Linked DNA regions of Homo sapiens. The protein of the gene in region 1 interacts with the protein of each later gene in a pairwise test. Each region holds a gene or a part of one and is shown on either strand. Other genes may lie near its edges.

Region 1 (7,028 bases):
AGTAGAAAAACGTCAATTTCTTGTAGAGATGTTTCTCAATCTCTCATCTCAGCTCTTTAAGGACAGCAAAGAGGGATCCAGATAGGAAGAGAGATGCAAAGAAGAGAGAAGAGGGCTGGGCGCACCGGGCGCGGTGGCTCATGCCTGTAATCCCAGCACTCTGGGAAGCTGAGGCAGGCGGATCACGAGGTCAGGAGTTTGAGACCAGCCTGGCCAAGATGGTGAAACCCCGTCTCTACTGAAAATACAAAAATTAGGTGGGCGTGGTTGTGTGCGCCTGTAATCCCAGCTATTCGGGAGGCTGAGGCAGGAGAATCACTTGAACCTGGGAGGCAGAGGTTGCAGTGAGCAGAGATCACACCACTGCACTCCAGCCTGGGTGACAGAATGAGACTCTGTCTCAAAAAAAAAAAGAAGAGAGAAGAGGACAATGGAGAGCCTAAGATGGAACTAAAATATCACCCTGAAAAAGAAAACTCACGGTAAGTATGAAAACACCAACAAAGAATTCCGTTAAATCGGGAGGGAGGAAGGGAAGGTCGGGTAGAGACACTTTTAAACACATGCAGAACTTGATGAGGTAGTCTTGAAAACGCAAGCCTTCTGGGAAGAAGGAGAAAAAGAATGAAAGGGTACCCTCTGTTGGCCGGGCGCGGTGGCTCACGCCTGTAATCCTAGCACTTTGGGAGGCCAAGGCGGGCGGATCACGAGGTCAAGAGATGGAGAACAGCCTTGCCAACATGATGAAACCCAGTCTCTACTAAAAATACAAAAATTAGTTGGGTGTGGTGGCGCGTGCCTGTAGTCCCAGCTACTCAGGAAGCTGAGGCAGGAGAATTGCTTGAACCCGGGAGGCAGAGGTAGCAGTGAGCAGAGGTTGCAGTGAGCCAAGATTGCGCCACTGCACTCCAGCCTGGAGACAGAGCAAGACTCCGTCTAAAACAAAACAAAACAAAACAAAACCAAAGAGAAAGGGTACCCTCTGAAAACTGTGCTGTGAAAGACACAAAGAAAATGTAAGAGCCAAAGGACATAGAACCACCTCCCCGACAAAAAAGCCTTCTAGTAGAATTAGAAGCCATACTTGACTACACCTAGAAAAGAATAGGAACTACTCTTGAACTAGGAATCTCAAAAATCATCCTGAATGACTGTCACTCCTGCTCACGAAATGCAAACTTCGAGAAAAAAAAAAGATTGAAAAGAATGAAAGAACCTCAGGATCCTGTGGGCTAATATCAAAATGTCTAACTCACATACAATTGAAGTGAAATTGAACTCACATACAGAAGAAGTGAAAGAGAATGGAACAGAAGAAATATTTTTAAAACTAATAGCTCCAAATTTCCCAAATTGGCCGACAGACATAAATTTACAGATTTAAGAAGCTCTGCAAATCTCAAGAATAAATCTCCGGATAAATACAAATAAAATGACACCTAGATACACCACAGACAAACTGCTAAAAAACAAAAATAAAGAGAAAATCTTGAAAGCAGGTAGAGAATGATAACACATTACATACAGAGTAATGAATGATGCAAATGATGGCTCCATTTTACAATAAAGGTAAGAAACATATCTAGAAATCAATTTAACAAAATATGTATAAGACTTCTGAACTGAAAACCATAAAACAGAACTAAAAGAATTTTTTTTTTTTGAGACAGAGTTTCACTCTTGTTGCCCAGGCTGGAGTGCAATGGCACCATCTCGGCTCACTGCAACCTCTGCCTCCCAGGTTCAAGTGATTCTCCTGCCTCAGCCTCCAGAGTAGCTGGGATTACAGGCATGCGCCACCATGCCTGGCAAATTTTGTATTTTTCGTAGAGACAGGGTTTCTCCATGTTGGTCAGGCTGGTCTCAAACTCCTGACCTCAGGTGATCCACCCGGCTCAGCCTCCCAAATTGCTGGGATTACAGGTGTGAGCCGCCACACCTGGCCCAAAATTTTTATTTTTATTATTATTATTTTTTGAGACAGAGTTTTGCTCTTGTTGCCCAGGCTGGAGTGCAATGGCACTATCTCAGCTCACTGCAACCTCCACCTCCTGAGCAAGTTCAAGCAGTTCTCCTGCCTCAGCCTCCCAAGTAGCTGAGACTACAGGCACCTGCCACCACACCTGGCTAATTTTTGTATTTTTAGTAGAGACGGGGTTTCACCATGTTGGCCAGGCTGGTCTCGAACTCCTGACCTCAGCTGATCTGCCCGCTGCAGACTCCCAAAGTGCTGGGATTACAGGCATAAGCCACTGCACCCGGCCTAAAAAGAAATTTTAAAAGGCTTAAATAAGAAGGAAAATGCACCAAGTTCATATATTTGAAGACTCAATACTGTTTAGGTGTCATTTCTTTCCAAATTGATCCATAGATTCAATGCAATCCCAATCACAACTTTACCAGACTTTTCTGTAAAACTGGTAAAGATAATTCTGATATTTATATGGAAATGCAGAGGATTTAGAATATTCACATCAAGCTTGAAAACAACAAAATTGGAAGACCTACAACTACATGACTTCAAGACTTACTAAAAAGCTACAGTAATTAAAAGTGTGGTACTAACACAAGGATTGAACAATGGAACAGAAAAGGGAGTGCAGACATCAATTACCATTTGTACAGTCATCTTAATTTCCAAAACGCAATACAATAGCATTTTCAACAAATGGTGCTGGAATGACTGGATATCTATATGGAAAAGAAATTAATATTTAATTATATCTCACACCATTCACCTAAACTAGAAATGGGTGATAGGCTTAAACATAAAACTAAAACTATAAAATTTATAGGCCGGGCACGGTGGCTCACGCCTATAATCCCAGCATGTTGGGAGACCGAGGCGGGTGGATCACAAGGTCAAGAGTTCAAGACCAACCTGGCCAACCTGGTGAAACCCTGTCTCTAATAAAAATACAAAAATTAGTTGGGCATGGTGGCGCATGTCTGTAATCCCAGCTACTCGGGAGGCTGGGGCAGGAGAATCGCTTGAACCTGGGAGGCAGAGGTTGCAGTGAGCGGAGATCGCCATCACCGCACTCCAGCCTGGACGACAGAGCAAGACTCTGTCTCAAAAAAAAAAAAAACTTACAGAAGAAAACATGAAAGATTATCTTCACAGCCTGAAGGTAGCCAAGATTTCCTAGGACTCAGAAAGCAGTAACTATAAAAGAAAATATAAGAGAAAACTGATTACATCAAAATGTAAAACTTCTGTTCATCAGACAACTCTAAGAAAATGAATAGGCAACCAGACAGAGGACAGGTAACCAGGATATAAAGGTTATATAAATAACTGCTACAACTCAATAATAAAAAGACACACAACCCAATGTAAAATGGGCAAAAGATTTGAGCAGGCACTTCACAAAGGAAGATGCACATTGTCATGGGCACAGGAAAAAGTGCTAAACACCATTAGTGACTGAGGACTAAAATTAAGACCATGACACACCACACCCATCAGAATAACTCAAAAGACTGACAACACCAAATGCTGGCAAGGATGTAAAGCAACTGGAACTCTCATACACTGTTGGCAGGAAACAGGCTGATAAAACCACTCAGCTGTTAATGCACACTACTCTTCATGAAAACCAAAGGCCGACTCCAAGGACGGAGCCACACGTCCAGGGAGTAGAGCAGCAGAGGCCCAATCCCAGGCCTGGAGCCCTACTGGTTTTTTGAGACGAAGTCTTGTTCAGTCGCCCAGGCTGGAGTGCAGTGGCACAATCTCGGCTCACTGCAACCTCCATCTTCCTGACTGAAGCAATTCTCCAGCCTCAGCCTCCCGAGTAACTGGGACTACAGGCACGTGCCATCACGCCCAGCTAATTCTAATTCTTGTATTTTTAGTAGAGATGGGGTTTCACTATATTGCTCAGGCTGGTCTCGAACTCCTGAGCTCAAGTGATCCCCCCGCCTCGGCCTCCCAAAGTGCCAGGATTACAGACGTGAGCCACCGCGCCTGGCCTATTAGTTCTTTATTTATCTTGAATATCAGTCTTTTGTCAAATAGGTCCCTGTGTTTCCCCATTCATTTTCTTAGAGTAGTCTGTGATTACATTTTGATGTAATCAATCATATTTATCTTTGTGTGTGTGGTTTTTTTTTTGGGTTTTTTTTGCTTTTTTAAGTGACTCTGGCATCCTGAGCCCTAAGAAACCTTTGCACACACTCAGGTCATGAAGATATTCTTCTCATCTTCTTCCAGAAGCCTCACGGTTTTCTAATTTTGAAAATAGGTCTGGGCGGGGCCCGCTGGGTGCAGTTGCTCACACCTGTAATCCCAGCACTTTGGGAGGCTGAGGCAGGCGGATTGCATGAGGTGAGGAGTTCAAGACCAGCCTGGCCAACATCATGAAACTCCATCTCTACAAAAAATACAAAAATTAGCTGGGCCTGGTGGAATGTTCCCGTAGTCCTAGCTACTCAGGGGGCTGAGGTGGAAGGCTTGCTTCAGCCTGGAAGGTAGAGGCTGCAGTGAGAAGAGATCACCCCACTGCACTCCAGCCTGGGTGACAGAACGAGACTGTCTCAAAAAAAAAGAAAGAAAGAAATTAAGTAGCCAGGAGTGGTGGCTCACGCCTGTAATCCCAGCACTTGAGGCTGAAGTGGAAGGATCGCTTGAGGCTCAGGAGTTCAAGACAAGCCTAGGGAACATGGCTGTCTCTACAAGCAGCAAAACGTTAGTCGGGCATGGTGGAGCATGCCGGCAGTCCCAGCTACTCAGGAAGCTGTGGTGGGAGGATCACTTGAGCGGGGGCGAGGAAGGGGTCAAGGCTGCAGTGAGCCATGATCATACCACTACACTCCAGCCTGGGCAACAGAGGAAGACCCTGTCTCAAAAAAGAAAGAAAGAAATTAAATATGTATCTGTCATATGATCCCAAAATTCTGATAGGTGTTTTCCCAGAGGAAATAAAAACATGGTAAAAAAAAAAAAAAAAAAAACTCAGGGGTAGAAGGGAGAGAGCCTGGACTAGGATAGTGGCTATGGCAAGAAATCATGAATTCAAGATATTAAAAAGGTAAAGACTGGCAAAGATGTTTTATTCTTCTCCATTTCCTTATCACCTAAAAGCATTTTTCTTTCTTTTTTTTTTTTTTTGAGGAGTCTCACACTGTTGCCCAAGCTGCAGTGCAATGGCACAATCTCGGCTCACAAAACCATTTCTTATTATATGTGGAGGGCTGAAGAAGCATGTCAGGTGGACTCTGGATATACAGATCAAGAGGGAGATGTGACAAGGTGATGGGTGAGATTCTGACTGTGAAGGTCAAGAACGGCTTGATGAACAAGACTGGAGCAAGTTTCTTTTATTTTCATTTATGAACACAGTACTATAATGTTCATGAAACTTTAAAAAAATTAGCAAAAGTAGAAAAAAAGTGGCCAGGCACGGTGGCTCACATCTGTAATCTCAGCACTTTGGAAGGCCAATGCAGACAGATCACCTGAGGTCAGGAGTTCAAGACCAGCCCGGCTAACATGATGAAACCTCTTCTCTACTAAAGATACAAAAATTAGCTGGGCATGGTGGCAGGTGCCTGTAATCTCAGCTCCTCAGGAGGCTAAGGCACAAGAATCGCTTGAATCCAGGAGGCGAAGGTTGCAGTGAGCCAAGATCGCACCACTGCACTCTAGCCTGAGCAAGAGTGAGACTCTGTCTCAAAAAAAAAAAGTAGAAAAAAAATTTTTAATTGAAATCTCAAAATGTCATTACCTCTAAAGCCTTATGCAGCTCACCACACTCTGAAGTATGTCTTTTTTTTTTTGAGGGGGAGACACTCTGTTGCCCAGGCTGGAGTACAGTGGCGCAATCTCAGCTCACTGCAACCTCCACCTCCCAGGTTCAAGTGATTCTGGTGCCTCAGCCTCCTGAGTAGCTGGAACTACAGGCATGCGCGACCACACCCAGCTAATTTTCTGTACTTTTAGTAGAGGCAGGGGTTTCACCATGTTGGCCAGGCTGGTCTCGAACTCCTGACCTCAGGTGATCTGCCCACCTCGGCCTCCCAAAATGCTGGGATTACAGGCATAAGCCACCACACCTGGCCTGAAGTAAGTCTTAAAATTTGTGGGAACCCAGTAATCCCAGCACTTTGGGAGGCCGAGGCAGGCAGATCATGAGGTCAGGAGTTCGAGACCAGCCCGGCCAACATGGTGAAACTCCGTCTCTACTAAAAATACAAAAATTAGCTGGGCACGGTGGCGGGTACCTGTAATCCCAGCTACTCGGGAGGTTGAGGCAGGAGAATCGCTTGAACCTGGGAGACGGAGGTTGCAGTGAGCCGAGATCACGCCACCGCACTCCAGCCTGGGCGACAAGAGTGAAACTCCGTCTCAAAAAAAACAAAAAAACACGGTGGGAACATAGGATTAATTCCCTCACACTGATCATTTCTCTGCACTCCCACACTCAGCCATTAGAGAACTGCGGGGCCATACACTAATCACTGAATCCCCAACACTCAGCACAGTCCCCACTCAGCACATAGTATGAAGAGCATTTTAGCCTTATTTTAGCTTCTCTCCACATCAAAACTGCCAGTTCAATATTAAAAATGAGTGCCTTGAGTGAAGAAATGCTAAAAGCTGCAGAGATGGAAAAATATCCACTAGGCTTTCTGCCCTTGAAGCACTACTGAGACAGTCAGTTCTCATTATTCAGGGTAGTTATGTCCTGTAAAGCCATCATGAACACTGAACTAGCAAATACTGAGCCACTGCTCCCAGGGGAAATACAGGGTTACTCAACAGGCCAATACATAACCTTGTTTTATGTGTGCTTCTGTTTAAAGATATCTTATTTAATATATATTGTTGATGCAGTAACATGAACTCACAGCCAACAACAAAAGTGATGCCTGAACAAAGCTAATCTAAAAGCTTATCTTTTCTCTATAAGATATATCACAGCCTTCAACTTGGAAATGCTAGACAGCACTTCTATTCTTGGAGGCCCCTATAAACAGCAAAATCACCAAAAGCACAAAAATACAAAAAAACATGGCACTACGTA
Region 2 (7,153 bases), on another chromosome or scaffold:
GAAATTCTCAAAACCTAAAGCTTATGAAATGGTCTCAATGTCCAAAGAGCACTAAAAACTCATTATTTGCAAAATGATACCAAGTAAATGTTTCATAATCTTAGTTGTACCTTTATAATATTTGAGTGGCTATGTGAAATGGTCACAGGTTAGAAACAGACCATAGTTCAAAAGTTAAATAATATCTCACAGGTAATCATTTCAGTCACAGAAAGTGGAACCAGGATTGAAGAGGGTGTTGAACAGGCTAAGAGGGCATTGAACAGGCTACTGAAGTGGGAGTAGTATACCTGGAGTCATTACTAAGCAGAGTTCTCAGATTTGATCAAGGTTAATTCAATGAGGAATGGAATATAGAGAAGAATAGGCAGCAAGATTAGTAGGAAGCAGTCAGATCAAGTAGCCAATCAGGAATTGAAATGGTCCTTGAAAAGGGAAAGATGACTGAATTGAGGCATACAATGAGATATCATTCTGTGGCTCTGGGAAAGTAAAATTGGTTGGCATGTTAATATGGAATAGGGTTTCTACAATACCGCTTAAAGAATGTTCCCATCCTCTCAGAACTGAAGGGAGTTTCAAACAGGCAGTTTGTGAGCCATGGTGAGTATGATGATGATGATGTGATGATGATGATACAGTCTCCTTTATGTAACAGCTGGCAGAAGACCTGGTCACACCCACACATTTTAAATTCACATAAAACTAAATATATAGGCTGGGCGCGGTGGCTCACGCTTGTAATCCCAGCACTTTGGGAGGCTGAGGCGGGTAGATCACCTGAGTTCAGGAGTTCGAGACCAGCCTGACCAACATGGAGAAACACCATCTCTACCAAAAATACAAAATCAGCCAGGCGTGGTGGTGCATGCCTGTAATCCCTGCTACTTGGGAGGCTGAGGCAGGGGAATCGCTTGAACCCGGGAGGCGGAGGTTGTGGTGAGCTGAGATCACACCATTGCACTCCAGCCTGGGCAACAAGAGCGAAACTCTGTCTTTAAAAAAAAAAAAAGTAAATATATAATATATGGCTGGGCACAGTGGCTCACACCTGTAGTCCCAGCACTTTGGGAGGCTGAGGTGGGTGGATCACTTGAGGTCAGGAATTCGAGACCAGACTGGCCAACATGGTGAAACCCCATCTCTACTAAAATACAAAAATTAGCCAGGTGTGGTGGCAGGCGCCTGTAGTCCCAGCTACTCAGGAGGTTGAGGCAGGAGAATCACTTGAACCCGGAAGGCAGAGGTTGCAGTGAGCCAAGATCATGCCACTGCTCTCCAGCCTGGGTGACAAAATGAGACTCCATCTCAAAAAATAAAAATAAAAAGTAAATATAGCTGGGCATGGTGGCCTGTACCTAGCTACTTAAGAGGCTGAGGCAGGAGGACTGCTTGAGGCCAGGATTTAGAGACCAGCCTGGGCAACACAGGGATACTCTGTCTCTAAAAAAATTAAAAAGTAAATATAAGCAGAAGTCTTCTGGCAAAGATTTCATTCATTCAGTCATTTTTTAGAGATAGGGTTTCACTCTGTGGCCCAGGCAGGAGTGCAGTGATGCAATTATTGCTCACTGCATCCTCAAACTCCTGGGCTCAAGCGATCCTCCCACCTCAGTCTCCCAAGTAGCTGGGACTACAGGTGCATGCCACATCTGGCTGATATTTAATTTTTTATTTTTCTTTCTTTCTTTTTTTGAGATGGAGTCTCACTCTGTCACCCAGGCTAGAGTGCAGTGGCACAATCTCGGGTCACTGCAGCCTCCACCTCCTGGGTTCAAGTAATTCCCATGCTTCAGCCTCCCGAGTAGCTGGGACTACAGGCGCATGCCACCATGCCCGGCTAGTTTTTGTATTTATAGTACAGATGGAGTTTTGCTATGTTGCCCAGGCTGGTCTCAAACTGCTGGCCTCAAGTGATCAGCCCGCCTCGATCTCCCAAAGTGCTGGGATTACAGGCATGAGCCACGGTGCCCAGCCTTATCTTTACAATTTTTTTTATAGAGATGGGGTCTCATTTTGTTGCCCAAGCTGAGATTTCTTAAAAAGGGACAGCATAAAATGACATGAGGTTTAGCATCAGTAGGTTTTAGTTCAATCTCGAGTTTCCATAATTCTTGTCAGGAACCTTAAACAAGTCGCTCAACCACCTTGAGTTTGAGTTTCTTCATGTAAAAAACCCAGAGAACTGGAAGATTAGTGTGGCAATGCATCTGAAAATATTCTGTAAACCAGCGTGCTGGACAAATGCTAACCTATTATTGAATTCAGCACTTCATTTCAGCGGAGCTAGGAATTCCATATTTGGACCCACCTTGACTGGAGATTTCTGAAAAAGCTGCTTCCGGTCGCATGCCTTTTGGGCTCTGTGGGCAGCCCTTGCAGAATAAAACTTAATGACGGCATAGAAACCAGGATGGGCCACTGCAGCATTTGGGAAGACCCGGACTGAATACAGAAGGCCAAACTGAGAAAATGCTGTGAACAGAGAATGCTGTGGGGGTGGGACAAGTAAATGCATGAAATCTCACGCCCAGAAAACAAAACCGCACATGCCCTCATATTCCCCAAACCTCTCTTCGCGAAGGATGCGATTCAAAACACTTCCCACTTAATCAACAGGTTTTCCTCTTAAAATCCTAAACTTTAAGAAGCACTGGAAGGTAAAACGTTCTGAAGGTGGAGAGATACCTCTCCGGGACTCTAAAAATCTGTTGGGGGTCGTCAGTTGTCAGTTGGGATCCCCTTTATAATTAAGAGTCCTTCAGCGGAGGCTCAGGCAGGTGAGGGTCTGAGGCAGGACTCCGGAACTCCCAGTCAGCGGGTGGGCAGCTTTCTCCATCCCTCCCTCCATCCTGGCCCCGGCTCACATGCAAAGCCTCGGCCGTGGGTCCGGAGCTCAGCTCCCACACTAGCAAGGTTTTGTCACTCTCGATGGGAACCGCAAAAGGTACCAACTCCGCCATCCTCCCTTCACCGCACCTGCGCGGCTAACCCTCGCCCCAGCATTGCGCCTGCGCAAGGCACGCCCGCGCTTTTTTAAAAAGAGGCGCATGCGAGGGGCGGGGACGGGGCTCGGATCGCTCCCTTGCCCCTCCTACCTAGGGCCAGCCTCTGAGTCTGTTCCCCTCCTCCAGTCACAGCCACAAGATCCCTGAGTTTAGAGCTTCCGTTCAATGCATGTTTAGGGTAAAGTCCCAAAATAGGCTGACAGGATGGAAGGGTAGGGACGTGTTTATAGAAGCCAGCTTCATCTTCACTCCTGAAGGAGATTAGGGTACTAAGTATTAGCACTTGTGGGAAATAACCACGAAAGATGCAATCTTTTGACTTAAGAGGTTTTTTTAAGAGTTTAAAATTGCAAATAAAAGTATAACTCACTAAACCATTAACAGTCTCGCATGAAATCCTTAAAAAGAATTCCCTGATTGTCCTACGTCATTCTGGTGAATCGTGTATGTGTACTTGTGGGGGTCAGATGATGTGAGAGGTTGGAGGTACGAGTGAGAAGGAGAGATTAATTTTGAAAAAAGAAAAACAAACAAACAAACAAACAAACCCACAAAGAATAAGTCCAAATAAGGCACCAACATTGGAGCTGATGGTGTCTGAGAAGGGTAGGTGTCATAATCAGCTACGTGGTGGAGGAGTGTAATCAACTGGTGGGTTCATCATACCCACTGCCCAGAAAAGCTGATTTACTGAGACAGTGTTATTGAAATAGGCAAAGAGTTTCATAAGCACAGAACCAGCTAAATAGAAGACTGGAGTTTTACTATTACTCAACTTAGCCTCCCTGAAAATTTGGAAGCTGGTGTTTTTTAAAGGGTAATTTGGCAGTCAGGGGGCCAGGGAATAGGAAATGCTGACTGGTTGGGTCAAGGATGAAATCATAGAGAGTCAGAGCTTGTGTTCTTGTGCTGAGTGAATTCCTGGTTGGGGGCCGCAAGACCAGATGAGCCAGTTTGCCCATGTGAGTGGTGCCAGCTGGTCCATCAGAATGAAGGGTCTGAAAAATACCTAGAACCCCAATATTAGGTTTTACAATAGTAATGTTGAAAGCAGTTAGTTAGCTTGGACACAAAGCAAGGGAAGGGTCCCCGGAGAGATCCCGGCTCACAGGGTCAGTGCCTTACCCCCACATAACATAAAAAGCAGCCTGGGAAAAAATTCAAGCTACCAGCACCCATAAGAGAACTAGCATAGGGTGTTGTGCCTGGAGACATGCCCACGGCTGCACAGATGGAAAAACCTCTGGCCCATTTGGATAAAAGCTTGCACAAAACTTCAGCTCACTCAGACAAAAGAACAAGGCCTGGCATAGAAATGCCTTTGTCCTTTGTATAGTCAGTGGGCTCCCAGGATGAAGTTGCTTCTACTTTTGTGGGCATGGGCATAGTGGGCTCCGGTGAGTTCCAGTGGGCACTCTACTTTCCTTTTTGGACCTGTAAGTCCAGCCTCTATGAATCATCACTTCAGCCCCTGATAGGTCTTGGGCCAAGCTAAGCAGCATCTAAGAATCATTTCAGCTCCTGATTGGTCCTGGGCCAAGGCTCCTTGCCAAGCTGAGTTCTCCAAGACAGCTGTCGGACTAAGCACATTGCTTCCCCTTCCCAGTCCATAAAGACCCCAGCCTCACAGGGGACACCCGTTCTGGCCCCCACGCTCTGCTGGCAGAGAGCTTTCTTCTTTCGCTTATTAAACTTTTGCTGTAACCCCACCTTTGTGTCCACGCTCCTTAATCATCTTGGAGGTAGGACAAAGAACTCCGGGGGTTATATCAGACAACTACAGAGTGTTATATCTTGGTGCATTGCTGAGACTACAACAGTGTTTTGTATAGGAGCAACTGGAGAGGTTAGGAATCTTGTGGCCTCTGTCTACATAATTTCTGAGCCATAATTTCTAATCTTGTGGCTAATTTGTTAGTTTTACAGAGGAGATCTGATTCCCAAGCAGGGAGGTGGTTTGTTTCAGGAAGGGACTATTATCTTTGTTTCAAAGTTAAGCAGCAAAAATTCCTCTCATAGTTAGCTTGGCCTGTGCCCAGGAATGAGCAAGGGCAGCTTGGAGGTTAGAAGCAAAATGGAATCAGTTAGGTCAGATTTGTCATAATTTTTATAAAGGCAGTTTCAGTAACACAAGAAGTAAAGTGAGTCCTACTACTGTTTATTTTAATCCTAGAATGTCAGAGCCAGAAGAGACCCTACAGGACAAGTCTCTTGTGATTTCTGAATAATGATCCTCAGACTCATGCTGTGATAAAGTTTTCACCCCTACTCTACAAAATGAGGACCATATGGAAAATATAATCAGGTTTTTTATAATTTCATAAAATAAAGTAGATTCCACTCCATTCTTCTACAAGTATGACCTCCCTATAATGTTGATACTAAAAATTTTTCTATGAAAAGATGCTAATAGAGGATAGTTGCTTTAATGCTCTTACTTGGACATTAAAATTAAAAATTAGAAACCTCGGCCGGGCCTGGTGCCTGACATCCATAATCCCAGCACTTGGGAGGCCGAGGCAGATGGATTACTTGAGGTCAGGAGTTTGAGACCAGGCTGGCCAACGTGGTAAAACCCTGTCTCTACTAAAAATACAAAATAGCTGGGCACGGTGGCTCATGCCTGTAATTCCAGCACTTTGGGAGGCTGAGGTGGGTGGATCACCTGAGGTCAAGAGTTCGAGACCAGCCTAGCCAACACCGTGAAACCCCGTCTCTACTAAAAATACAAAAATTAGCCGGGTGTGGTCGGGGGGCGCCTGTAATCCCAGCTACTGGGGAGGCTGAGGCAGGATAATTGCTTGAACCCAGGAGGCGGAGGTTGCAGTGAGTGGAGATCATGCCACTGCACTCCAGCCTGGGTGACAGAGTGAGACTCCATTTCAAAAAAAAAAAAAAAAAAGATTAGCTGGGTGTAGTAGCACACACTTGTAGTCCCACCTACTTGAGAAGCTGAGGTAGGAGAATTGCTTGAGCTTGGGAGTTGGAGGTTGCAGTGAGCCAAGATCCTGCCATTGCATTCCAGCCTGGGCTACGCAGTGAGACTCTGTCTCAAAAAAAAAAAAAAAAGAAAGAAATCTCAGGTTTAATTATTTTTTACATTTTATCACCTGTGAAATACAAAAGTCTGGCAACTACTGAATAGTCAAATCCCTCCTTCTATAGTAGAAACAGCTAAGGCTCAGTGGTAGAGAAATAAGTGGTCCAAGATAAAACCCCAGATTGGTCAGACACTACTGACGGTGGCTATGTGTAGGACATTCCTTCAACTGTCACTTTTCTGATTTTGCCTTTTCTTTAAGCATGTTCTACTCCACCTCAGCACCCTCCAGGCAAACCAGATCCTGTCCAGAGCACCTTTTTTTAATCATCTAGATCCTAGCTTATTCTCCCAAAGCACCCCCAAATTATTGGTATCTGCCACTATTTCTCCATCCCATCACTACTTTCTCCACATCAATACCAGACCCCACCCATTGCCTACTTCTGAGTTTTCTCTTTTACTTCAAAAATTGTTCTTTGGAGGAATTACTTGGATGCTGATACTGTTTCAAAGCAATAATTATGGATTTTACTATACATTTAATTACCTATTGTAATGTTTGTGGATGTCTCTGCTTCTCCACCTAGATTATGAACACCTAAACAACAATAGCTGTGTTTTGTCTTCCTTCTACTACCTAGTACACTCCCACTGTCTTAGGTACTCAAATATATGTAGACTAATGAATAAATGGACACAGTCTTTGCAGAGCGAGTGCTTTAATATTTCGATAAATATAAAGATTTCTTTATTGTGGTCCTCAGTTTACAAATAACAGACAGGAACCAGGGGACTGGGTCCAGATGGGAGTAAGGAGGAAGCCAAGAAAACCATTTATTCCTGGGGCTCTGGTCAGTTTTAGTTGTAAATGGGAAGGGAAGAAAATAACATGAAGTGGAGGCAGTAGGAAGAAGAAATGAAGAATCCCTGAGTGAGGACAGGAGTCTTGGAATGACTCCACGGTGCACCCGCACCCTGTTTCATCTCAGGCGGCATCCTGTCAGCCAGTAGAAGAGTGGCCGGCCTGAACAGTGCAACCTCCATTCTACCCTGCGGAGAAAAAAGACATGGTTCTTGCCTCACACTCAGTAACTCTTCCACA
Region 3 (7,028 bases), on another chromosome or scaffold:
TGTCCTTTTGGGACAGACCTCAAAAATAGAAGCAAATTCCATTAAAGTAGTAATATACTTTTCCTACTACTTCGTTTTGGCCATCTTAAAATTATATTTTATAATTAGTAAATAAGCTGATTTGACTGAAACGAGCAACTATGTTTATTGGAGACAGACCCAGCTTTTCAACAGATAGAATGTTAGGACTTTTTTTGCCCATTAATATGTGGTTTAAAGGGAAGTTATAACAAGACACCAAATGCATATGTATATATACAAATACAGGCAGTTGTATGTTTTTAAGAAGTTTTTAACCAGCAAGGGGTGTGTGTTTGTGTTTGTGTGTCTGTGTGTGTGTGAGAGAGAGAGAGGGAGAGAGAGAGAAAGGGAGAGGAAGGGAGAAAGTGTGGGAGGAAAAGAGGAGAGGAGGAGAAGACAGAAGAGGAAAACAGTCCTAACTATTAAAAATACCAATTAACTACTTAATAACACATCTTTCAGTGTCTTGCATAATAATTTCTTAGATATTTTGCAAAATTCGGCATGGTTAAGGGATTTTGTAATGGTTAAATAATTTTATTAGTTGTTTGAAATTGACTGTCTTTGTTTTCCTATCTGTGTGCTGAGATTTATCTCAATTATATGTGTGAATAATGTTATGCATGGGGTTACTTTTAATATGGATTTAACTGAGATTCTAGACTATATTCTTTGTAAATATGAACATTAGAAACTTGTTCAATTGTGGGTCGTCATTAATTCAAGTCAGGAAGGCTCACCCTTTGTCCTCACACCATCTCTTAAGAAGATAAGTCCTGTGGATAAGCTGGAGAGGTCAGATGTTGGTGTTGACTTAAAGCATTGCCACCCGAGGAGGGCAGAATGCTGTAAAACAAAGCAGAAGGAACTGTGTGGAGAGAAGGTGAATGACTGGGGGACTTGAAGTTGAAAGAAAAGTCAGGCGCTGAGCCTGCAAGGGCAAAATGAGGCTTGTGGGATAAGAATGGTTTGTCAGAAGTCACCTGTTTGCTCAGAAGTCATCTTTCCCTAACAAGGGTCTGTTTGGTATGTTCCTGTATTACAATTTATAATAACTGTTTTTTTACCTGCTGAGGGTAAGATCTTTAAAGTGACATCTTACCAGCTATTATTCTTAGCTCTTGCTTATGCAAATCTCAATTTGAAAAATAACCTTTTAAAGTTTTTTTTTTTAAATAATGAGAACATATTCAGAATGACAATGTGATGAACACCTGTGTACCCACCAATTGGTTTAAGAAATATAATTTCTTGTTAACCTTGAAGTTCTCTAAGTCTTCTCCTTACTCCCACCTCAGAGGTAAATTCCACTCTTTAAATTCTGCTTTTTTGGGGTCTCTTTTTAAATAGTGTTAACATATTTTTCATATGTGTAGTTTTGTATGTTTTACAACCATATATAAATCGAGTCACTCACAATGTATGTACAATATGTTCTTCAGCAATTTGCCTCTCTCACTCAGTATCATGTATCTGGTCTCATCTATATTGCTCTATGTATCTTTAGTTCTTTCATTTTTATTTGACATTCCATTGATGAATATACCACAATTTATATATCTGTTCTGATGATGAACATTTGGGGTTTTGTTTTGTTTTCCTAAAAACAGTGCTGTTACTGAACATTAGTAGGCAGAAGAAAAAACAAAACACCTTGATCTGTGTCTCACACTTTATGCAAAAATTGCCCAAAATGAAAGGACTAGTCCCTAGAATAAGTACTTGCAAAACTCAGCAGTAAAAAACAAAAAACAAAAAAACATAAAACCAAATTAGAAAATGGGCAAAAGACATGAAGAGACATTTCACTGAAGAGGATATACATATGGCAAATAAGCACATGAATAAGTGTCATTAGCCATAATGCAAATTAAAACCATAATGATAGGTCTCTACAAACCTGTATCAGAATAGCTAAAATAAATAGTAATAACACCAAATGCTGGTAAGGATGAAGAGAATCTGGATCACTTATTGATGATAGGAATGTAAAATGGTACAATTACTCTGGAAAATAGACAGTTTCTGAAAAGCTGAATATGCAGTTACTATACGACTCAGCAATTACACTTTGGGCATTTATCCCAGAGAAATTGAAGACGTATATGTGCATAAAACTGAGTATTTATAGCAATTTTATTCATAATAGACCCAAACTGGATACACACCAAATATCCTTCAACAGGTGAATGGTTAAATCTATGGTATATCTATATCATGGAATAATACTCAGCAAGAAGAAGTAACAAACTGTTGATATATACAACAACCTGGATGAATCTCCAGAGAATTATGCTGAGTGAAAAGAGCCAATCCCTAAAGGTAACGTACTGTATGACTTCATTTATGTAGCATTCTTGAAATGACCAAACTGTACACAAAAAATAGAGAAATCATTGGTCGCCGGTGGGTAAGGATGGGGTGAAAGTTAGAGGCAAGTGTGTGTGGCTATAGAAGGATAACACTGGGGATTCTGGTGGTTATGGAGATGTTCTGTATCTGGTCTGTGTGAATGAAATATCCTGGTTGTGGTATTGAACTATAGTTTTGCAAGATGTTGCCATTGTGGTAAACCAGGTAGAAGCTACATGGGATATTTCCATATAATTTCTCCAATCTGCCTGTGAATCTAGAATTATCTGAAAAAGTTCAATTAAAAGACAACATGATGCTGTTACAAACATCCTTGTACATGTCTCCTGGTGCACATATGTGAGCTTTCCTCTAGATTTTATTTCCGGGAGGAATTACAGGCTATGCACATGTTAACTTTAGTAAATCATGGCAAATTTTTTTCCCAAGTGGTATATGAAAATTCTATCCTTTTCATATTATACTCTATCCTTTTTAAGGATATTGTACTTCAAGGATATTATACTCTATCCTTTTTAACATGTAATACTGTGAGACTTAAATTTTTATCAGTCTGTTGGTTAGAAAATGGTATCTTGTGTTTTTAATTTACATTTTCTTGTTTATAATGGAATTGGACATTTTTATTTATGTTTAATAGTCATATGTGGTTTTTTTGCTCAGTAAAATCACTATTGATCTCTTTTCCCTGCTGTATTGTCTGTCATTTAAAAAGTTGATTCTAAGGGGATCTAGTTACAAATTTTGTTGCATTTTAATGACTTATGTTTTTCTTTTTATCTGTTAATGAAGAGACATTTTGATGTGACAGTTTTAAAATATATAAAACTTTTCCTTAACTTTCATATTTCAGTCTGATTTAAAAAGTCCCTTCTTGGAGATCAGAAAGTCATCTTCCTATAGCATCTTCTTATAGCTCTATGGTTAACTTTGGTTATAGTGTGGTATAGCGATCCGATTTTAATTTTTTTTTGTAGGGATAACCTATTTTCTTAGTACTATTTTGGATTAATTCATCTTCTTTTCTTCACGTATCTTCCAAGCTTACTCTTACATATATAGTATCTTTGGTTCTCCTACTTTATGAGGCTATTTTTCTCTCTCTTAGCCAATGTCATAAAGCTCATTATATTACCATCCTTTAAAACCATCTCAACCTTCCTTTGTTCTCTGCTTTTCTATATAATGAAGCATCAGTTGATCTTATGCCAAATAAATAAAAAATGAATAACAGATGGATAATCACTCAAACCTACCCACTCTGATGTGATTTTTGTTGAAATTTTATTGAACATATAGATTAATTTAGGGGAGAATTGCTATATTTACAATATTTAGTCTTCTTCAGAAATATATTTCTGTCCATTTGCTTAGGTTTCCTTAATACATTTTTGTAAAATTGCCATGCATTTTTCATAAAAATCACATTTCTGCTTTTGTCAGATTTATTCTTAGAGTGCTTTTTTGTTTTATTATTATAGTAAATATTTTTAAAGTTGTATTTTCTGTTTGTTGCCAGCATAGAAACATGTAGCTGATACTTGTAGCAACCATCTTGATAAAATATTTACTTCCCATAATTCATCTTTAGATTCTTTTGAATTTTCTAAGTACGTAATTATAACCTCTGTGAATAGTGAGTTTTGTTTCATTCAAATCCTTGTGGTTTCATTTTATCTTTTGGTCTTACTGCATGGTCTAGGACCTCTAGTATGTTGAAGAGAAGTGTCAAAGAAAACATCTTTTCCCCACTTTTGATTGTAAAAAGAATGCTTATAATGTTTGCAATTGTGAACTACTACATACAATACATTTTGTTTTTTTGGGTTGCTCCTGGTTGGCTAAAGGCTTATTGTAGAAACATAATAGGCATAGAGTGTTGTTAGAATTGGTATAAGATTTGATTTTAATAGAATTCACCTGTAAAAATTATCTTGGCCTCGTGTTTCTTTAGTGGGTAGCTTTTATGTACCGAATGAATTTGTTGATAATTGCAGACTAGCCTATTGTGTCAATTTGGTAAGATATTTTTCTAGGTGATTGCTCATTCAAAAAATATTCTAGGGCCGCGCGCGGTGGCTCACACCTATAATCCCAGCACATTGGGAGGCTAAGGCAGGCAGATCACAAGGTCAGGAGATTGAGACCAGCCTGACCAACATGGTGAAACCCTGTTTCTACTAAAAATACAAAAAAAAAAAATTAGCTGGGCATGGTGGCGTGCACCTGTAGTCCCAGCTACTCAGGAGGCTGAGGCAGGAGAATCACTTGAACCCAGGAGGCGGAGGTTGTGGTGAGCTGAGATTGCGCCACTGCACTCCAGCCTGGGTGACAGAGTGAGACTCCATCTCAAAACAAAACAAAACAAAAACAAACAAACAAACAAATCTAAGTTTATAGACAGAGTTTTTTTTTTTTTTAAATGATATCTTCTTACCATTTTTTAATCTCTGGGATTTTCATTATGTTCTGCTCCTCCCCCCCATGGCAATATTGTTTATTTATTGCTTTACTATTTATTTTCTTAGTGTTTTCAAAAGACCAGTTTTAGGATGTATTGTTCCTCTTTTGCATTTTATTTTCTGTTTCATCATTTCTTGCTCTTACCTTAATTATTTCCTTTTTCATTTTCTTTGGAGTTTATTTTGTTAGTTTCATTTTGACTTTTTAAGTTGGTTGTTTGTCCTTGGATCATCATTTTTAAGCTTTTAAAAATTCTAATATGTTCATTAATAATGCCCTGTATTTCCCTTTAAATGCTATTGAGCAGCTTCCAAATTTTAATTTGTATTATTTCCATTCGTTTGTCATTTTGCACATTTTTCTCTTTTCAAAAAATTAAAAAAATTTTTTCTAGAGGCAGGGTCTCACTCTGTCACCCAGGCTGGAGTGCAGTGGTGTGACCACAGACAGCTCACTGCAGCCTCGACCTCCTAGTCTCAAGTGATCTTCCTGCCTTGGCCTCCTGAGTAGCTGGGACTACAGGCATGTGCCACCACACCTGCCCCACACGTTTTTCATCGTCAATACTTCTTTGTTGAGTTATTTTTAAATGTTTTAAGATTTCCAAAAATTGAGTTTTTTTGTGTGTTATCTTTTTGATGAAGATTTTTAATTTAATGTCCTGTGGTCAGAGAGGGTGGTACAAATGATAGAAATTCCTGAAATGTGTTGAGACTTGATTCATGGCCTTTTCTCAAAGAAAAGCATATCAGTCTTAACTGACCTCCACTTATATGACTTTGCATATTGACCAGCATTTCCAACTTTTCTATAAATCCTTGGATGTTGACAGCATCTAGTTTATTCTCTGATGAGCAGACTTTCTTTGGCTGCTCCAGCAGAGTGCTGCTGAAGTGTCAAGCTGTTTGCTCCTAAATGTATGTACTTGTTTATTATAATTGCATGATTTAATTAAAATATGAATTAAGAGGTTGTACTTAAACATGAATAAAGAGGGAGTACTTATAGCTACGAAACTTTGTTAAATGCTTTAGAAATAATCTATATAGTTTAATTGCTAAAATAAAAAAGGAGCTGTCAATTTAGGTGTGGGTGAGATGACTTAGGATCTAGGAATCAGTGGTAGATTGATTTGTAAATATCTTTAAATTCTCATTTGCTTTAAAACAGTTGGAGGTTGTGTACAATGTATTATATGTTGGACTTACATAAGAAAGACTTAGAACTCCATCAGGTGTCCCTAACTGCAAATAAAGGCCTCAGCTGAAAACCTTCCTGGGGGAAGGTTAAAGCAAGTAACAGGTTGGAAGCTGGGAGAAAGTCAGGATTTAGGGTGTTGGGCACTTGTGTAGAGTAATTTTTTTATTTCCTCATGAACTGGTTGTTCAAAAATTTTTCTTTTTTTTTTTTTTTTTTTAGTTGATAGTAACACTTGCAGACCTGTTGTACCATGTGGTTGAACTAAGCAGAACAGGGGCACTAGAATTAAACAACAACAACAACAACAACAAAAAACTACAGAGGAATTACAGTTGCCATAGGCAGCAATGAAACTAGAACTAACCAACTGCAGTTTTTTGTTGTAGGCAAATCCACAAATCTTAGAACTTAAAAAAAATACTTTTTTTTAGTGTTTTACGAGATGAACTCTGAATTATAGAATATCTCACCATTAATATGCACCTTCAGCATAGAAACAGTTAAAGAAAATAAACTTACCTGAAACTATTGTATTCCCTGTGCATTGTCTTCACATCCTTTTTCTGAGTACCTGAGACAAAGTGAACTACAAGTAGGATAAGAACTGAAAAGTTTTCACCAGATTTATGAATACAGTTTCATCAATGATCTTGGTGAATAGTAGTAGCAGAAGAGTTGACCATAGACCTTATAGCTAGCTGTTAGAATAGCTAATTTAATGAATTTTTTCCCAAATCTGAAACTCAAAGCTACTGATAACCAAAGCTAGTTCCCTGATAAGTAACTTAGGGAAGTGCACTCTTATTTCAATAATTAATGCTTCCATGAAATTATATAAACATTCATGCATTCCGACAATATCTGAATATTTCTGTGTGCTAGGTGCTGTGCTGGGTGTTGGGTATGCCATTATGAACAATACAAAGAAGAGCTCTGTTTTCATTCAAATGAGGATAAAGTTTTTCAATAGC

The links. The genes of interacting proteins can lie anywhere in the genome.
Region 2: the proteins of RAD52 (region 1) and RDM1 interact in binary tests that used the Homo sapiens proteins (3 or more experiments, as listed by UniProt).
Region 3: the proteins of RAD52 (region 1) and RPA3 interact in binary tests that used the Homo sapiens proteins (3 or more experiments, as listed by UniProt).

The regions. Positions count from the first base shown.
Region 1 is NC_000012.12:939,673-946,700, forward strand, and holds part of RAD52 (DNA repair protein RAD52 homolog), read right to left. Parts: intron 1-7,028. UniProt on the Homo sapiens protein: Involved in double-stranded break repair. Plays a central role in genetic recombination and DNA repair by promoting the annealing of complementary single-stranded DNA and by stimulation of the RAD51 recombinase.
Region 2 is NC_000017.11:35,927,765-35,934,917, forward strand, and holds the start of RDM1 (RAD52 motif-containing protein 1), read right to left. Parts: upstream 3,010-7,153; 5' UTR 2,964-3,009; coding exon 2,868-2,963; intron 2,536-2,867; exon of another isoform or gene 2,519-2,535; coding exon of another isoform or gene 2,492-2,518; coding exon 2,312-2,491; intron 1-2,311. Other genes in the region: LYZL6 (lysozyme-like protein 6 precursor), read right to left, coding at 7,032-7,101. UniProt on the Homo sapiens protein: May confer resistance to the antitumor agent cisplatin. Binds to DNA and RNA.
Region 3 is NC_000007.14:7,708,599-7,715,626, forward strand, and holds part of RPA3 (replication protein A 14 kDa subunit), read right to left. Parts: intron 6,629-7,028; 5' UTR 6,577-6,628; intron 1-6,576. UniProt on the Homo sapiens protein: As part of the heterotrimeric replication protein A complex (RPA/RP-A), binds and stabilizes single-stranded DNA intermediates that form during DNA replication or upon DNA stress.